Linked DNA regions of Homo sapiens: regions 2 and 3 are each reported to be linked to region 1. Evidence: microRNA targets listed by miRTarBase, many of them from high-throughput screens and not tested one by one. Region 1 holds a microRNA gene; each other region holds the end of a gene's coding sequence.
What was found. Region 1 holds the annotated microRNA hsa-miR-134-3p (CCUGUGGGCCACCUAGUCACCAA, at 1,465-1,487, opposite strand). A microRNA usually pairs through its seed, bases 2 to 8, with sites in the 3' UTR of a target mRNA and lowers its output. Matches are read on the target gene's strand: a 7mer-m8 pairs with bases 2 to 8, a 7mer-A1 pairs with bases 2 to 7 and ends in A, and an 8mer does both.

Region 1 (3,128 bases):
TGAGGTGGCACTGCTCGCAGCATTCCTGCATCTTCTGCACAGCCTGGGCAGCTTGGGAGTGGCCTCTGAGGGTGGATGGGACCCTGAGGATGAGTGGACCAGGTGGCTCAAACCCATGCTCTCCGGCCAACCCCAGGTTCACCAAGCCAGGATTAGTGTGCACAGAAATACCACTTCTTGTGCTCAGCTGGCCATGCAGGCAACATTTAATAATGCAAGGATGTCAGTGGCACAGGAGTCATTAAATATGAAGCAAACCACACACAAATGTGTGTGCAAAAGCAGGCTAAGCACTGCCTCCTTGGTAAACCTGGGATTCCCTTACAGGAATTCTCTGGAGGGTGTAAGGCTGCTGTGGGTTAGTAAACCAGGGGTCGCACAGAGTCCTGTTCCTGTTTTCTTCTGTATCCCGACGGCTGACTAATAAAAGATGCTTCTAGATGCCCAAGATTCAACTCCAAGGTTGAATTTGATAGGAATAAAAAAAGAAGTCAGCCATGTGTATTTCAATCTTAACTTTTAAAAAATTAGGGCATCCCAACAACCTCTCTCGATTTTCCTAAAGTTGGTAGTGCCCCAGGAAGTTGTTTTAGGGTCAGCTTGGACTCTAAAGTTAGTAGGTCAGTTACATGCATCCTCAGGAAAATGCTTGCCATGGGGTCAGCCATCCAGAAACCTACCTTGGAAGCAGCACTGGCTCAGGAAGCCCTCCGAGGCAGAATTTGACACTAAAAGAGAGGAGAGCCGTGTATGACTCGCTTTGATGAATCGAATTCATCACGGCCAGCCTCTCTCCAAGTACCACACATGAACACTGGTGAGAAATCCATTGCCTCTCTGGCAGAGGTGGCCGCCCTTCTCGGGAGTCCTGTTAGGAATGGGTGGGATAGTATTGGGTAGTGGGCCGAGCCGAGTGACATACACCCACATTAAGTGCATGCTCACCCGAGGCGCACTTACCTTAAGGGAGTGCTGAGGGCACTGCCTTCTCCCCAGCAGCAAGGATGCAGTTCGTCCTTCCAGACAAGACAGGGAGCTTTTGCGTAGCTCACTGGTCCCTGACAGGAGAATCATGGCCGCTTCCCAAAGCCGCATTATCTCCATGGAGCCTCCTAGGGAGAGACAGGATGCTGGGTATTAGAGGACGACGTGACAGACCTAACAAAGGCAGCACATGCTCTGGGAAGAAGGATTCAGTCACACACCCAGGAGAAAAGCTGGCCCACATCAGGTCCCTCAACAGAAGACAACATGGCGTCCCACATCGGAAGTCAACACTTCAAGGAGGCTGTCACAGTGGTGAAGGGGCTGCCAAGGCTGACTCATTGCATTTTAAGTAAACATACACCCCCAAGAGCACGTGTCATCGCAGTCCACCAAGCAGTCACAGCAAGTCCATGGCCGCTTCCCCAGAGTTGGTGGGAGCTCTGGAAAGTCTTCCTGGAGTGGGAGTGATGCTGAGGGTTGGTGACTAGGTGGCCCACAGGGTGAACACAGTGCATGCCCCTCTGGTCAACCAGTCACACACCCTGGACGGTGCTGACACCAACATCTCTTCTGGAAGTCGGCCTGGGGCCCAGGGAGCCTCTCTTCAAAGTCTTGTGAGGTGACGCTGGTGACAGAACCACAGCTGATTCCCCAGAGTTGGTGAGACCCATGGGAAGACCTCCTATAGGTGCATGGGAGGCTCGGATTATCGGGCCAGGTGACTTACAGCTAGGTCAGCGCATTGTCCATGGCCCGCCATCCATTCTTGGCTTTTCCACATGGTTGACACAAAGACTATCTTTCCTGAAGCTGCCATTGTGTCCAGGAAGTCCTTAGAGGTAGCATTTGGTACTGAAAAAAGTGTTGTCCGTGAATGATTCGTCATAAGTAAAGCGAATCCACCACGAACAACTTCTCTTCAAGTACCACAGAAAAGCAGAGACAAGACAGACAAGGAGTCCCCTTCCACTTCTCCAAGGGGAGTGGCTGCCAACCACCATCCTGTGGACAGAGTGGACACCGAGCATTAGTGAGGCAGCTTACGGGTGTCCTAGGAACACACTGGAGTTTGGGCAACCCTTCACTCACCTCCCTTGGAGTGGTGCTGGCACAGTCCCCCTTCCCTGGAGTTGAAATTGTGGTCCTGAATCCACACGCACAAGGTTTAGAAATAAGAAGAGGGAAGCCACTTGTCACACGCCAGGAGCACTCCGCAGTGTGTAGACCCCAGGGTTTCTGAACAGGGCCTTGGACTTCTCAACAGAGCACACTGAGTTATCCATCAAGCACATCAAGGTGCCAGCCAGGCTCCCGCAGGGCCCACTGAACTAGGGAGGTCCAGAGGGGGCCCCCTTTTGCCACTGCAGGTGCCCCTAGAGAAACTGCCCAGCTCAGGCACGCCAGGCTCCTGGTAGGTTCCCCATCACTGCCCTGGGTAGATTCTCTATCAATGCCCTTGTGGTCAGAGTGATCTTTCCAACACAGACCACGCATCCCCCCTGCTCACAACCCTTCCAAATCCCCCATCTCACTCAGAATAAAACCTGGAGTCCTGCCTCTCCCAGCTCAGACCCAGCGACTCCCAGCAGCTCGGTTCAATCCCACTGGCCTTCTTGCTTTTTCTTAAAGATGCCAGGGGGCTTTCCATGGGCCTTGCCCTCCTCCTGAAATGCTCCTACCCCAGACCTTCCTCTGGTCCACCCCACTCCATTCCCACCCACATCCTCAGAGAGAGCTTTCCAGACCCCTGTATTTAACACAAAGGTCCACCTGCTTTTACCTCTTTCTGTCACTGTAACCCGCTTTCCCTTTCCCCATAAAACCTAGCAGTGGACAAAATTACGCTTCCTAATTCATGTGTTCTCATCCGTCTCTTCCACCAGAATGTAAAGTCCACATGAGCAAGAACTTGATTTCATTCACTGCTCTCTGCTAAGGTCCAGAATCACCTAGAACACAGTGTGCACTCCATCACTATTTATGGAATGACCAAGTCATTCCTTGTTATTTGATCAACTCATGAACCATGTAGTTATGCTATAAACAAAAGAATCTGATTTTTTTAAAAAGAGAGAACTTTATCGAAACAAAATCATGGTGGCCAAAGTCACCAACCCTCTCAATAGCCATTATGGCCATGG
Region 2 (3,000 bases), not on the chromosome of region 1:
TAGGCCTGATGGGCTACCAGCTCCTGCCGGTGAGTGGCCCTGGCCTGGCCCGTGGCGCATCCTCACTCCCAGCCTGCGGGTAACCTGCCGCCCTCTCCTCTCCCCACAGCTACCCTTCGAGGAACTGGAGTCCCAGAGAGGCCTGCCCCAGCTCAAGAGCTACCTGAGGCAGAAGCTCCAGGCCCTGGGCCTGCGCTGGGGGCCTGAAGGGGGCTGAGGGGTTGATGTGGGGTTCAGGATGGCCCCCCCATGGGGGGTGGATGATTTGCACTTTGGTTCCCTGTGTTTTGATTTCTCATTAAAGTTCCTTTCCTTCCCCGTTGTGAATCTCAGTTTTGGGACGGGGAGCAGAGCTGAGTCCCCCGCCTCTTCCATTCATGCCCCGCCCCCCATACAAAGACAAAAGGCCACAGATAGGTGGGGGCCAAAGCACTTTACTGCAGGGGCAGTGGGGGAGGAGAAGACTTTAAATTATTCACTTAAATAAAAAGGAGGGAGGGGCATGGGAGGGGGAACCCCATCCCACCAGCCTGTCCCCTCGTCCATCGGTCCCTCGGCTGTCCCTCGGTGGCGGCTACACAGGCATGGGCATCTCATTGTACTCGTCCACACCCTCCCGCTCATCAAACACCGGCTCTGCCTCGTTAGCATCCAGCTGTGTGTGGGGAGGTGGCGGTCAAGAAGGGAAGTGGGGGGGCCTTTCCAGATCCACAGGGAGGCAAGAGGAACCGGGGGAGGCAGACGGGAGGGCTTACACATTTCATCTCTCGGTCGGTGAAGATACGGGTGAGCACCACCATGCGGAGCGGCACTGTGAGGATGAGGATGAAGGGGAAGGCCAGGGAGGCAGCTGTGGACATGACGGCCCAGAGCAGGGCCAGGCAGAGCAGCTGCAGGGCCGTGAACAGGTGCATACGGAGGGTCCGGACCTGGGGGGCGGAGACAGGTGAGCCCAGCTTCCTCCCTAGCCTGCTGCTGGGAAGAGCCTCTCTCTTCTTCGGAGGCGGGGATGGAAGAACATTCCTAGGTGCCAGAGCTGGGTTGGTACAGAGAGGAGGTGGGGGCTGGCTGAACTGGGCAGATGGGAGGGGGCAGCTGGAGAGTGACCCAAGTAGACCAGGATGGCCAGAGGCACACCCCTTCCGGTGGGGAGCTGGGGGGCTCACCTTCTTGACGTAAGTGACATCTGGGTGGTGTTTGGGCGGCATGAGCAGCAGATGCAGCCGCTCATAGAACTGGATCCCGTTAAGGGAGGTGACTCCCATGTACAGGAAAATTCCAAAGAGCACGGCCAGGGGGATCTGCCGGAGCAGATCCCCGATAACTATGGAGAGGCCTACGGGAGGCGCAGGAGAAAGAGTTGGCCCCGGGGTCCCCTGGCCCCAGTAGCCCTGGGGAATCCACTGGGAAGGGAAAGGCAAGAGGCAACGTACCCACAAGCAGGGCAACCAGCAGCCCCGTCACCCGCTGCTCCTTGACTTCCTGAATCTTGGGCTTGTCCCCAGGTGCCACAGCCTTGCTCATGACAGTGAGCGCGTTGGCGTGAGTGACAGAGCGGACAGTGGCAGCAGCCAACCAGGGCAGGCCAAAGAGGGCACAGATGCCGCCCATGGCCACGATGAGCAGCAGGTCCAGGTGGAAGCCGGAGCCCTTCTGCAGCATGCGCTCCTTCTTGGAGATGATGAGCCTGAGAGCGGGAGGGGTGCTGCTGAGGCCCAGGCTGGACTCAGCTCCGCAGACCACAGGGTCTTTCCAGAATGCCCAGCCAGTCCCTCCATCTGGCTTTGGAACCTGGCGGTCCCTGTCCATTCCGTCAGGATTCAAATTCCGTTACAGAGCAAAACCTGGGCCCCCAGCCCTTATCGTCCATGACAGCTCCCAGCTAGCACTGCCAGGGTGGCCTGCCCCTCCACGTGCTGTTCCTGTCCCAGCAAACATCGGGGTTTTTCTGCTGTCTACAGAATAAACTGTGGCCATCTGGGCATCCAAGGTTCCCTGAGGTCCCTGGGATTGCCCAGTGTGGCTGGAGGTTCCATGCTGAGTTCCCCAGCCTGGCCTGGGGCTCTGGCCTCTCACACCCCTTTGGCTAGGACCACTCACGTGGTGATCTGTGTCTCCATGAAGATGAGAATGAAGACCAGGATGGCGGGCAGCAGGCTGGCAACCATCATCCACACAGGGAAGGGGCTCTTCTCTCCCAGGGGGTTGATGACCCAGCCCCTCTTTTCTGGGGCAGTCACCGAGAATCCACTGGGAACGCTCAGCTTCTGCAGGGCAGACACAGTGTAGGGACAAGGGTTAAGGTGAATGTGGAGGGCATGCCATGGAAAGGGGATGGCATCTTAAGGACAGGCTTAAGCTTAAGGACAGGCTGGGTTTGGAGGCTGGAGGGGAACACCTAGACCCGGGGTGGCAGAGGCAGCAGCACTTGCCTGCTGTGGGCAGCACCTTACCTGGGTATAGGTGTCCTCAATACTGTAATCCACAAGCACCATGATGAGGATGGCGATGGGCACCCCAAAGTCCCCAATCACCCGCCGGATCTGAGTGGGCAGGCACAGCGCTCAGAGTCCTGCCACCACAGCCGCTGACTTCCTGCCACCCCCCTTCCTGCCCCTAACCCCCTCTTGGCCTTTAAGCCCACGCACCCGGCCAGGAAAGAACCGGCTGTTCTTGAATTTGCGCAGGAAGAAGGCGATGAAGAAGGTGCCGGCCATGAGCACCAGCGACAGCAGGGCCGTGTTGGGCTGGCCCCGGGGCTTCCCCTGCCCAGACTGCCCAGCCAAGCTCCTGTTGCCCGGCCCCAGCGTGGGTCTTGCCCCGGCCCATGTCATGTTCTCACCGCCGTCCACCTCTGAGCTGTTGGAGGCTGAGCAGCCATGCAGGGGGTGCTCCTGGAAGATCTGGGGAGAGGAGGCCACACGGCCTCCATCAGCTGGACTGCAGAAAAGATTCCTGGGGCTCAGTGAGTGTCGGGTGGAAGGGGTGGGGCAGGGGAAA
Region 3 (3,000 bases), not on the chromosome of region 1:
AAGGATTCATTCTTCACTTGACAAGTATTTATTGAGTGCCTAGTATGTGTCTGGTACTGTTTTAGGTGCTTGAAGCGATAGAAGCAAATAAAATATGTGCAGTCTTTGTTCTCCAGAACCTTATAGTGTAGACAGTAGGCATTAATTAAATAATGACCCCAATCATGACATAGTTGCAAGCTGCATACTTTGAAGAAGTAGTCGAGGGGGCTCTGGAGGGGGACTACAGGTGAGCATGGAAGGAATCTGGTTTGAGGATTAGAAAGACTTTCTAAGGGAAGGGATCTCTGAGTTGAGATTTAAACCATGAGCATGAGTTAAGCGAGGGCCCTTCAGGGAGAGTAGACAGCAAAAGGCTCTGAAATGGGAAGGGACATTGGCACTAAGAGTTCCCACTATCCCATATAACACCATTGTATAAATCAGGAAAAGGCCCCTCTCAGTCACTGTGGCTCAGGGTGGACTGAGATTCACCCTGTCCAGGTCTCACAGCTAGCTGGACAGGGTGGATCTCAGTCCCACTTGTCCCCGCAGCTAAGCACCCCCATTGGATGGATCTGTTGGCAGTCCTTCCCAAGGGATTGTGCCTTTGTGAATTTGTGCCTTGGGTAAGACTGAAGGACCAAGGGTGATGTGCCTGGAGGGCAGACACAAGGGGAAGAAGTGGGTGAGGTGAGCTGGGCTACCAAGCTGGGCCCAGTCAGGAATGCCTAAGCTGCACAGAGGGCTTTGGTCTTCATTCTAAGACCAATGTGAAGGCTTTGAAGCAGGAAAATAACCCAATCAAACTTCAAGAATGGAGGCAGGGTGATCAGGAGTGAGGCTTCCTCAGTGACCTGGAGGAGAGATCATGGTGGCCTGGACTAGGATGGGTGCCAAAAAGATGGAAGGAAATGAACAGACTGGGGAAATATTTAGGAGGATCAATTAATAAGACTTAGTGATTGACTGGCTGTGGAAATTAAGGAGAAAGAATCATCACAGGGGTTTCCCAGGTTTCTGGCTTGTGCAAGTGATATGGTTTACTGAGATAGAAAATACCAGTGAGGAAGACACAGACATAAATGCATGCATGCATGCACCTGTGCGCACACACTCCTTGCAGGAGTTGAAGAGAAGATTAACTGTAATTATTTCATTCTTCTCCCTCTCATAGCCTCTCCTTCTCCGTGTAAAAAAAAAAAAAAAAAGATTGTCCAGGAGCAGGCAGATAAAAGTTCAAACTGAAGCCTCTCTGAGGTGGTTTTCACTACATGGTCTAAAAAAATATGAAACAAAGTAAAAATCCCATCAGAAAATGACGGCAATGCTATTCTAGCTTGCTTTTAGCTCTGATCTTTGAATTTGATGGTCAATTATTGAGATACCCTAAAAATGGCACTTAAAGTGTCTCTAGTGCCAAAAAGAAGTTCACAAACCAATGTACCTCTTGGGGGATTGTTTATTGGTGATGATAAATACCTCTTGTTTATTGTCATTGCTTGAAAGAGAAAGACATTCCCCACCCAGGAGCAGGCCAATTCAGACTCAACCGGCCTAGGACCTATTTCCTGCCCCAAGCCTCCATTCGGTCATGTGTGACAATGGCTCTGGGATCCAAATAATCTGTACTGTGTTGGAATTAAACTTTATTTGAGCCACAACCATATAAATAATATGTACACAACATTACATACTATACAAGTGTGCCAGTCATCCTCTACCCATCCCCCATCCAGTCATTCCGACTCCCAAGTATGTCAAATTGAGAAGAACCCAAGATGCGATCAGTTCACAGAGAGCATGTGCAGCCAGGAGGAGCACCATGCCTCCCAGAGAATCAAACGGGTAGGGCAATAGGCCGGTCTGGACAAGTCATACAAAAGGATTCCTTTAACATCTTGAACTCAAGTCTTAATTCAATTGCTATGAATTTCTCAGCCTATTTGGTTAATATTGAAATGGAATAAAAAATACAGCCTCCTCAAAACACTTTTTTTACAAGAAAAAATGGCTAGAAGGCAATTTAGTCACTTGTGATTCTGAAGAAAAAGGAAGGCCTTTCTTTGCATTACTGAGGGTTTTCAGTTGAGAGGAAAATGTAATCCAGAGTTGTTATATTCTGAGATAAAATCACAAACAGGCATATGTAAATCTCGAATCCTATTCTGTGGTGCACTGAAATAGTGCAGGGGTAAAAAAGCAGTATGGCCATATTTTCCTAATGGTAACTTTTCCATATAGACCTACATTTCACTGACACTTTTTTCTGTAAATATTTTGAATATGGATGATCAGTTTCTGTCACTTGTCCAATACCTAGAAGTGCCTGACAATGTTCTAACATGAATTTCTGGATTGGTTTCAGAAACAGAGTGACTGGTAACTATGTGCAAATGGCTGGTCTATTTTGATGTGAGCTTAATTAATGCTGCATATGAAACTCCAAATGTCATAATCCAGGAGTTTTAAAATTTTAATTATTAGACTGATTTAGTTAACTTATTCTAAAATGAAATTTGAATTTAATTTAGTGTGAGTATTCTTTTACAATAAATTCCTTTTTAAGAGAGAAGGATTTCATAAAGTCTTTCCATTTAGCATGTGGATGAGAACTATATAAAAATGCCACAAATAAAATATGACTTTCACATTACAACTTGAGCTACAAACTTGCAGGGGAGGGTTGGGCTGCCCAGTTAGGACGTCTAGTCACAAAGTCCAAGCCGCCGTCTGATGAAGTTGGAGATTAGGAGCTGAGGCCGTTGCTGGTACTCCACCAGGACATCATGAGGCAAGTTGATCTGATCACAGTCGAGTCTGTCGAGAAGTGTCACACAGACCACAGCAGCTAGAAGAGCAATTAGCACAACTGATGGAATGAATGGGTTCATCTTTTCTATAGAAGCATTAGCCAAACACACCAGCATCCCTAGCACATGTACTTTTGTGTATTTTTGTTGTTGTTGTTGTAATGTAGATGCAACCTACTGAACCTTCTGGTCTTCAATATTTTTGTGG

Region 2: the mRNA of FASTK is a reported target of hsa-miR-134-3p. The part of its 3' UTR that is shown has no 7-base or 8-base seed match.
Region 3: the mRNA of UPP2 is a reported target of hsa-miR-134-3p. Seed matches in the 3' UTR shown: 7mer-A1 at 2,147-2,153.

What each region holds. Positions count from the first base shown.
Region 1 is chr14:101,053,091-101,056,218 of GRCh38, reverse strand. It overlaps MIR134 (microRNA 134), which reads right to left and starts at 1,532; the gene lies at 1,460-1,532. It overlaps MIR382 (microRNA 382), which reads right to left and starts at 1,913; the gene lies at 1,838-1,913. MIR668 (microRNA 668) reads right to left here and starts at 961; the gene lies at 896-961. MIR485 (microRNA 485) reads right to left here and starts at 800; the gene lies at 728-800.
Region 2 is chr7:151,073,942-151,076,941 of GRCh38, reverse strand. It overlaps FASTK (Fas activated serine/threonine kinase), which reads left to right. Exons shown (of 10, transcript NM_006712.5): 9 at 1-29; 10 at 110-318. The coding sequence ends at 217. SLC4A2 (solute carrier family 4 member 2) reads right to left here. Exons shown (of 23, transcript NM_003040.4): 17 at 2,649-2,903; 18 at 2,454-2,543; 19 at 2,101-2,267; 20 at 1,434-1,687; 21 at 1,167-1,336; 22 at 756-929; 23 at 419-655. The coding sequence ends at 575. Among named protein-coding and RNA genes, the nearest start is that of FASTK, 5.4 kb to the left of the region's middle. RefSeq lists enhancers at 1-718, 719-1,696.
Region 3 is chr2:158,134,578-158,137,577 of GRCh38, reverse strand. It overlaps UPP2 (uridine phosphorylase 2), which reads right to left. Exons shown (of 7, transcript NM_173355.4): 7 at 1,424-2,830. The coding sequence ends at 2,688. Among named protein-coding and RNA genes, the nearest start is that of CCDC148-AS1, 31 kb to the left of the region's middle.